Regions from separate parts of the Homo sapiens genome. Here region 1 is linked to region 2. The links come from fine-mapping of genetic effects on gene expression. Tissue or cell type: tibial nerve. Region 2 holds a variant in brackets; the other region holds the start of a gene. All regions are shown on one strand. Distances are from middle to middle.

Region 1 (5,059 bases), 38 kb after region 2:
AAGGTTTACAAAACAAACCTGTGAGTCTCTAAAAGACAACTGAAATAACTAGTTTCCACTAATAGAAACCTTACTTCATTTTGAAGGATAACACATTTTCAAACATTTGAGATCCACCGAGAACAACCAATTTAATTTTTTTCAAAGATTACGGCTTCATTTTTACTAACCATCTCAGACCCAAATGAGTTATTGTGCTTATAGCAGACTCAAACTATCAGTTAGTAGAGCCAGTTCAATGACAAAACAAAGCAAAACCTCCCCCTAATGAAATGAAGTTTGTTACCATATATACACAGCCTTAATTCCATTTCCAAGAACTCAAAATTCCATCAAAAAATCCAAGAGCCATTGTTTAAACCACTGACTTCCAATTAGTAGGTCTCTTGACTTTACAGTTTAAAAAACATTAAATGAATATTGCCAGGAACCTCTTTTTATTGCTACCCACCAACTTACTTGGTGGCCGAAAAATCTAAATCTTGGGAAATCTAAATTACGTGTGTATCCAAAGGTTTATGCCCTGCAGTGTGTGGCTACTTCTATACATTGACTTTTAAATTCTTCTCTGCTTGTTTCCTTGGATGATTTCCTTGCTGATAGTTTTTGTATGATTTCCCACGGGATGGTGCAAACTCACAAAGCACTATTACCCCATAGTTAGACACAATCAGGTATATAAAGAACTGAGAAAAATTACCAGGCTCTGGTTAAAGCAGAAAGGGGTGGCCTGGAAGCTGTCTGGGAAATGGTGTGGAGCACTTTGTGTGGAATTGAGCAAAGGCTCCGGGTGCATCTCTGTCTGAAGGTAGGAATCAAAGATCTGGTCGAGGCAGCTTGAGTTTTCTTCACATGAAACACAACTGGAAAATTCTCCCCGTTGCAAATAATTGGGCGTGGAAGAAATTGGTTCAGGCTCAAAATACAGTCCTAGAGGAGAAAGGAAAAAGGCAGGTTTTTGCATAAAAATTGCAAAACACAGATTTGAATGGAGATCTATACTCTGAATATTTACTATGTCTAGGGGGAAAGGGGGCTTAACAAATCCAGAAAAGTAAACGGGAATGCAATTTTGACTCTTTAGTTGTCCTAGCTAATTCAAGCTCCAGGGAAATGAACATGGTTAATAATGTGGAAACTGGCTGTAAAACTGGTTAGGGCAAAAATAAAAGGATGGTGACCCAATTTGTGTCCAAGTGTCACAGTCAAATAATGGCTCAAACTTCCCCTTTCTTGGGCTGTAAAACCATGGACATCCAGCCCCTACCGGCAGTTCACGTAAACCTCTCAGAAGTAACTGACAAAGTTGTTGAGGCTTTGAGAAAACTTCTGATGCTACGGGAAATAATTCTTTTGACTTATGGTGATTGCTTTTTTGAACTTTTCACTCTTACTCAGTAACTTAAGTTTGGAGGAGAGAATTTTGAGAAGTGATTTAAATGAGAATGCAAATGATAATCATGGAAACCAGGAACATAGAGTACCAATTAACACTATTGGCTCGGAAGTACAAAAAGCAAAAATGTTTTCTCAGTGAACATGTTAACATCATGATGTGATCAAAGTAAGTTGTTAAACATCAAACAAAGATAATCAGTAAACATTACTCCTTTTCCATTTTATTATTAATAGGCCCAATTTGTGATAATTATCTGTAAATGCTGGAAGAAGAGAGGATTAGAGTGTGCTCATCAAAGGGACTAAAGGACACTGTGTTCTTCTTGAGGTCTCAAGTTCCTTTAAGGTGAAGCTACGGTGACACATTTAGTGGGGAGAGGCCATAGGCAGAGGTTTCCTTATATACGACCTCCTTAAACTCTTAGCTGTTGAGTAGCAGAGGTAGGAGTGTTTATGTAATCGAGTTATTCTTATTGGGCTGAGAAAACCTACACTTGTTTGAACTGCTTTCTGGGAACAGAGAAGGGGAGGGAAGCCCCTGTCGGCTGGAAACTAAAGGAACAGAGCAAAGGCATTATTTGAGTGTCTTGGGATGTTCTGTATTCCATCTAACAGTGCACTAAAAAAAGATAAGTTCCTGAGAACAATTCTGATTTTGTAGTTCAGTTTAGTTACTTGGCGATGAGGAACTGGAATAAATGTGAAGAACAAACTCTTGAGACAATATAGCAGAGAGTAGAGAATTCAGAAATGAAGACAACATTTATGCTTGTTTTCTTGCTGGGCTTGCATGTGGAGTGACTATGCCTTTTTCACCTTCTGATTGGTTGGATTCCAATTAAATGGTGGTGCCTATCTTAACCCCTGAATCAAGACTGAAAGACTTTTGAGATGGACTTTTGAAAGAGTGTTTGAGGGAACTGTTAATGCTGGCTGTACTGACCTGCAGAAGATGGTGCAACTGGGTCTGAAAGGTGGACACTGCTGCCTCCGGACCGCTGTCAAAGCAAGAATATCACCGTGAAGCAGGCTGAAAGAAATGCTCTGAAGGGAAAGCTAAGACATTTTGATGAGGACTATGTTTCTTTCTGCTATAAGGTAAGCCAGATTCTTCCTTCTCAGAAAAAGTTGCTTTCTTTTTTTTTTTCAATGTTTGACAAATTTTTGTACAAAATATATTGTAAAAAACAAGTGAAAGGGAAAGTGTCAACAAATATTTTATAGAATTTGAAAGACAGGTGCATAGAATTGCGGTAGGTGTATTAAGTCCGTGTAGAATTTAAAATGCCTTTTGACGTTTATAATCCTTTTAAGATTCAATCTGGAAAATTGCATTGGAACAATGAAAACCTGAAATCGAATCATAAAACAGACTTCTTAAATACAACCAATATTATGTTTTATCTAGATCCAATATTTATGTTTGCTTGCTTGGGGAGTTTTTTTCCTAATATCAGATTCTTCTACTTAAATTTTAAAAGTGATTAATTTTTAGTAAAAAATTAATGTAAATAATTTTATGTGGTAAAAATGTAACAGTTTGAGAAAATGCAGCAAAAGGCTTCCTATTAAACTATTCGATTTAAAATTATTAAGGACTAACATTTATTTAATCTCAACTATCTATGGCTTAGTCAATTATTTTTCTCAAAAATTTCATATACCATCTGGCTACTTAGCCTTAGGGAGTCGTTTCCCCAAAGAACACAATTCTTAATTTTGTTAATTCTGAGTAGCTAAAAATATTCACATGTTCTTAGTATACATGAAATATTAAAATAGAAAATATTTTCTTAAAGCTGTGGTTGGTGAGTTGGAACCTACTTTCATTCTAGTTAATGGTCGGGAATTATTCCAGTACTTTGTATGTTTTGTACTACTATCTATAAAAGTTGCTTTTATTTAAACTACTGTATTTAAATACTTAAAAGTTTATGAGACTGCTCTTTTTAACTATTCAAAGTAAAGCAGCCTGCATTTTTCAGTTGAATTAATAATTATACTGAGTAATTTAGGATTTTTTTTTTTTTTTTAAATTTCAGGTGTGGCTTTAAAGTTTAAAGGTACCCGTATTGCTCTGTGATTCTGTGCTGGGAAGCCGAGCTCACCACACCTCTTTTGGGTTACAGGGCATACTCACTCCCATACTCTGAGCCACAGGGAGAGCTGTGCAGGCAGCCACTGCTGAAACAGGAGGCAGTATTAATTTTGAAAACGATCCATGCTGTAATGTCATGAACCAGGAAGCTGGAATCCTTTACCAGCTCTTTATGCAAATATTTGGCTGCAGCTTGAGCTGAAGGACTTGGAAGGAGTGGGTATTAAAAAATCTGCCTCATTGTAGAGCTTTCCTTAACTCCATTCCTCCCCCGGATTGGCCTGTTTGTCTGCCTCCACCCCATGTTATCTCCCTGAGGTGTGTTTACAATATCCTACTTGATATTATCTTTCTAGTCATGGGTTCACTTTCTACTTTGCTCCAAGAATACAAAGAAAGGCAACTCTCTCTTAGATTTCAAACAGCACAAAAATTCACAGTCTACAATTTATAAAAACACATCAAGGCTGTTTAAAAAATTAATGATTTAAAAAAAGAAAGGTAAATGATATCTTTTGATAACGACTAACTCAAGTTTCCTTTTACCCCAAAGGCAAGTGTGTGTGTGTCTGTGTGTGTGCGTGCATGCGCATGTTTGCAAATTGATCTGGCTGAAATAAGTTTTTTAAAATCGAGTGTTCCAATCCGGCATACACACAGTTTCTTCCGGCACTGCTTGAAGAATATTTGAATTCTTTACTGAATGTCTGTCTCAACCTATAACTTCCATTCGTGATTGCCTTCTTAAAATTTTAAATTGTGGATACTACACTGACTTTATAACAAATTAAGATAGATTTCTTGCCACTTTGTAGTATTTGATATAATTAACCCTCTCCTTGGCTTAAAGTTTCCCAGAGGCATCCTTCAACAAATGAACAAACTGGGGATCATCTCTGTTATACCAGAAAGGTCTACACTAAGAAGCAGGCAACATCATCCCCTGGTGTCTGCTACCCTTGCCTACTAAGTACGCTCTCACAGCTTCTTTAGAATCCCAGATCCATCCGATGGCTTCCAGTGAGGGATTTTACGTCTGGCTTTTGTAATTAAATTATATGCGTGTTAAACCTGCTTGCTTGCGAGGGCATAGGCTGATGCAGTCTTAAGGGAAGCAAAGTAGAGCAGGCTTTACTCTGCCTGTTCCTATAAGACACTGGTTCAGAAGTCCTGCTTTATTTCTCAGGAGGGAATTCAGAAAAATTTAAATAAGTCAAACTACTCCGGGGAACAGAAACTGGTCAGATACACAAGTGAAGTGTGTTACCCTCACATTAGCTCCTGTAGCGAGCTAAGAAGGGAACAGTGGCCACACCCATCTGTAAGGGCCCAGCAGCAACAGAAGTGCCACACTCACATGGGGCTCTCCAGGTGCAGCTGAGCAGAACTGTAGCAAGTACCAAAGCTCCTTAAGGAAACGTTACATTTTATTATGAAAGTCTTGATGATGTTTTTCTCCAGAAGCATTTTCCAGTTCCCTTGTACCTGGTTTTGTTAATTATATAACCATCTCTGAACTGAAGGGGTTGAGGCTATCAGACTCCTGCTTAGTATCGTCAGATC
Region 2 (5,059 bases):
AATAGACATATTTAATGGATACAGACAGATTATAGCCAGAATTCTTACCTTCTGGTACTTTTGTGGTCTCTTTTGAACTTTGTCCCTCAGTTGACTTATAACCAATGTATAGGTCAGCAGAGGCAGCAGCATGGCTGTGTGCAGGGGCTTTTTTTTGGGTGTTCTGATCTTGCAAGTTGCAATTAGAATTCTGAGTTTGCTATGCCATCTTGGGCTCAGATTCTTTTTCTCCATCAATCAAAGAGAGTATCATTTGCCCATTTCTTAGAATGAGACATTTTGAGATTGTGTCTGCAAAAGTACTTGATGCAAGATGATGCCTGGGTGCTTTACGAAATCAAGGGGCCCAATTGTGGCAGCTTTATTTTCATTATGCTCCTTTTTTAGGCCTTGTTTGGGGATATATTATTCACCGATTCAACAAATGCTTAGTGAGGAACTACTACGTCCAGCCCAGAGCTTGGACACTTCACAAGTCAAGAGAGTGTTGCCTTACTTCTTTGTTTCCTGACATATTTAACACAAGTCAGAATATTTAAAAGACTAAAAGTAAATGTATTAAGCATTTTGGTCAGTTTCAACACAAAATATAGTTCTGATAAGTTATCTATCAAAATTTTCTAATCTGTAGATTTGGTTTAAAATGCCTTTCAGAAGATGGAAAGATGTGATCAATGTGATGTTTTTACAGAGAAAATTCTAAATAGGTATTTCTCTTTATTCTAAAAGTGATTGTCTTTTGTTTTTCCAAATGACTCAGACTTACATATCCATGTTCTCACCTTGTAAACTGAAATCAGCAAGCCATCTTACTAAACAAAAATAGTGTAATCCTTTGTGTATATACCAACACAGAGTCCCAGGGCCTTGGGGAAAAGATGCAATAAAAATGCCTAAATAACATGGCTGACCTGATTTCTAGAGAAATTCTCTCTGCCTTGGGAAAGTAAGTTAGAGGAAAGCTTTTTCAGGGTTGCATCATTTGGCCCTATTCACCTCTCAGGAACAGTGACTTTCTGGTCTGTGTACTTGAAGACCAAGAGGCAGGCCGGAGATCCTAGTGAGGCTCAGGGATTTTGAGGAGCCCTGCCAGATCCCAGCAGTGACTCAGCGCTAATACACAGGGAAGAGTTCAGACTGCTATGCATCCGTTCACTGCTGTGTTCCATTATTACATGGTTATATACATGAAATGTCCACTGATGACATATCATAAGCAGAAGATTAGGCCTTGAATCTTAAACTTTTAAAATTTAAAAACAGTTGGCCAGGCACAGTGGCTCATGCCTGTAATCTCAGCACTTTGGGAGGCCGAGGTGGGTGGATCACCTGAGGACACAAGTTCAAGACCAGCCTGGCCAACATGATGAAACCCCATCTCTACTAAATATACAAAAAAAAAAAAAAATTTGCCAGGCAATCCAGGTGTGGTGGCAGGCACCTATAGTCCCAGCTATTCAGGAGGCTGAGGCAGGAGAATCTCTTGAACCCGTGAGGAGGCGGTTGCAGTGAGCCGAGATTGCACCACTGCACTCCAGCCTGGACAACAGAGCGAGACTCCGTCTGAAAATAAATAAATAAATAAATAAATAAATAAATAAATAAATAAATAAAAACAGCTCACAGGTATGATAGAAACACTTTATAAACAAAATTTAAATACAAATTATTTTTCTTATAGCTGATATTGAAATAGAATCTCCTGGCTGGAAAATAATTATTTTCTTCCATATTGCAGTCCTTTGTCACCAGTTTTTAGTCTGAAGTAAAAGTACCTTTTATATACTTAAATTATATGATTGTCAGAAGCTTTATCATACTAGTAACTGCAGTTATTAAAATTAGAATGTACACACAGTCTTACTGAAAATCCTGCATATTCTTCTGCTGGGAAAATGCAATGCAATAGTCCAGGTTGATCAGAAGCTTGGGTGTTGGATAACCCATTCAAGACACAGGTGGGCTGGTAAGCAGCTGGGAGAGGTATACCTACTGGGGCTCGATTCCTTAGGTTTATGCCCTGAGGTTACCATAGAGAGTTTTGATACTTCACATCAGCGTTACTTTTTTTTATTAATCATTTTATTATGAAAAATTTCAAACATGCAGAAAAGTTTAAAGAATTGTACAGTGAATGCCTGTAATCACCTAGATTCTACAATGAACATTTAGCTCTAGATGATCAGAAATCTATCAATCCATCTATTGACTCTGTATTTTTCTGTTAGATGCATTTCAAAGTAAGCTAAGCCATCAGTGCACTCACCCTAAAGACTTTAGGATGTATATATTAAACTGATATTAACTTGAGGTTCTTTCTTTTTTTATTGTGAGGTCAAATTTACATAGAGCAAAAAAAACAAATCTTAAGGACATCATTCAGTGAGTTTTGGAAAATATGTAATGCTGTGTAACCCAAATCTCTATTAATATACAAAACAATACTATTAATCCCCAAGTTTCCTCGTGCTCCTTATCAATCAGTCTCCACCTCTATCTCCTTAGAGGCAACCACCAATTTCTTTTCACCATAGATGAGCGTTGCTTGTAGAATAAGGGTGAATGGAATTACACAGCATGCGCTCTTTGTGTAGCTCTTCTTTCACTTAGCATAATGTTTTTCTATATTCATCCATATATTGTTGCA[C/T]GTATAGGCAGTTCCTTTTCTGCTGAATAGTATTCCATTGCATGAATCTACCACACTCTGATTATTTATTCTCCTATTGATCGACACCTGGGCTGTTTCCAGTTTTTGGCTATTATGAATACAGCTGCTAAGAACATTCTTGAACAAGTATTTTTTTTTCATATTTGGCCAGATGTTTTTTATTTCTTCTGGATAAATACTTAAGAATGAAATCACTGGCTTGTATAGTAGATATATGTTTAGTTTTACAAGATAACTGCCAGACTTTTTTCCAAAGTGGTTGTGCCATTTTATACTCTCACCACCAACAAATGAGAATTCTGGTTATTCCACACCTTCAACAACATTTGGGGTATTTCACCTGGTTTATAATTTGCATTTCTTTGATGACTAATGAAAGACATTTTGTCATATATGTATTTGATGTTTATTTATCTTCCATTGTGAAGTGTCTGTTTAAATCTTTTGACCACATTTTAATAGGGCAACTTTTCTTTTTATTATTGAATTATAGTCCTTTATCTATTCTGAATACAATTCCTTCATCAGATATGCGTTCTGTGAATATTTTTTCCCAGGCTGCAGCCTGCCTATTCATTTTTCTACTGGTGTATTTTGTGAAGTTTTAAAACTCAATGCAGTACAATTTATCATTTTAATGGGTATGTATTTCTGTTTCCTATGTAAGAAATCTTTGCCTGCCCCTCAAATAGTGAAGATAGCTTATTTTCTTCTAGAAGATTGATAGTTTTATGTTTTACTTTTAAATTTATAATTCATTTTGTGTGTGTGTGTATGTATGTGTGTGTGGTATGAGGCAGGAGTCAAGGCTAAGGATATTTCGTTGTCTAGCACATTTTTGTTGAAAACTCTTTTCTTTCTTTATTAGATTGCTCTGATGCTTTTGTTGAAAATTAAATTATATGTGTGATTCTATTTCTAGACTCTTTTCTGATCTATTGATTTATTTATCTATCCTACACCAGTACCATACTAATGAATATAGCTTTAAAATAAGTTTTAAAATCAAACAAGTTCTCTTTGTTTTCTTTTCAAGATTACTTTAAACATTTTAGATTCTCTGTATTTTCATATAAATTTTAGAATCAGATTGTCAATTCCTACAAAGAAAACCTGTTGAAATTATAATTGGGATTGTAATAAATCTTTAGATCAATTTTAGATAACTGACATCTTAAAATGTTGTATCCTCCAACCCATAAACAAGGTATGTCTCTTCACAGATTTAGATCTTTCAAAATTTTTCTCAGCAAGGTTTTGTAGTCTTCAGTGCACAAGTCATACACATGTTTTTAAAATTTATTCCTAAGTATTTTATGTTTCTGTAAAAAGAATTTTTAAAAATTTCATTTTCTGATTGCTACTAGTAGATACAAATATCATTAATTTTTGTGGATTGACCTTGTATCCTGCAATCTTACTAAGCTCACTTGTTGGTTCTAGTAGCTATTTATTTTACTTTATTTTATTTTATTTTTGAGACGAAATCTCACTCTTGTCCCCCAGGCTGGAGTGCAAGGGCACGATCTCAGCTCACCACAACCTTCGCCTCCCAGGTTCAAGCAATCCTCCTTCCTCAGCCCCCAAGAAGCTGGGATTACAGGCATGTGCCACCATGCCAGGCTAATTTTATATTTGTAGTAGAGATGGGGTTTCTCCATGTGGGTCAGGCTGGCCTTGAACTCTTGACCTCAGGTGATCTACCCGCCTTGGCCTCCCAAAGTACTGGGATTTCAGGAGTGAGCCACCGCACCTGGCCGCTCTTTTTTTATTCCTTAGGTTTTTATATGTAAACATTTTATGTCTCAACTGAGATTTCCCTTCTTTTTTTTCCTTCCAATTGGTATTCTTTTTTAAAAAAATTTTATTTCATTGGCTCCAATCTCCAGTACAATGATGAATAGAAGCAGTGAGAGACAGCATTGTTGCTTTGTTCCCAATCTTAGAGAGAAATCACTCAGTATTTCACCATTATGTGTGATATTAGTTGTAGATTTTTTTATGGGCACTCTTCACTTCATCAGCTTGAAAGGTACACTTTTATTTCCAATTTGCAGAAAAGAAAATCACAAGTGGCGCTGAATTTGTCATATGACTTTTTTGATCCATTGGGATGATCATGCTGATTTTCTCCCTCATTCACCATTAATATAGTGAATTACTTTGATAGATTATTTTGAAAGTTAAATTAACCTTTCATTCCTGGGATAAATCTGACTTAGCCAAAACATATTATTTTTCTGGTAAAGATTTTTTGTCTACATTCATGAGGACTATTTGTCTGTAATTTTTTTCTCATAATGTCTTTATCAGATTTTTGTATAGCTGCATAAACTGAATTAAGAAGCATTCTTTTTCTGTTTTCTGCAATAGTTCATAAAAGATTGGTGT

Evidence for each region. PIP is the estimated chance that this variant, and not a neighbour inherited with it, causes the effect.
Region 1: it holds the start of COLCA1, and the variant in region 2 is the best candidate, but not a certain one, in a credible set for the expression of COLCA1 in tibial nerve (GTEx, PIP 0.64).

Annotation. Positions count from the first base shown.
Region 1 is chr11:111,302,265-111,307,323 of GRCh38, reverse strand. It overlaps COLCA1 (colorectal cancer associated 1), which reads left to right and starts at 2,276. Exons shown (of 2, transcript NR_169237.1): 1 at 2,276-2,496. It overlaps POU2AF3 (POU class 2 homeobox associating factor 3), which reads right to left. Exons shown (of 5, transcript NM_001271458.2): 3 at 2,342-2,396; 4 at 701-930.
Region 2 is chr11:111,340,213-111,345,271 of GRCh38, reverse strand. No RefSeq gene overlaps it. Among named protein-coding and RNA genes, the nearest start is that of MIR4491, 5.0 kb to the left of the region's middle. The variant C/T (reference allele first, on the strand shown) is at 2,648.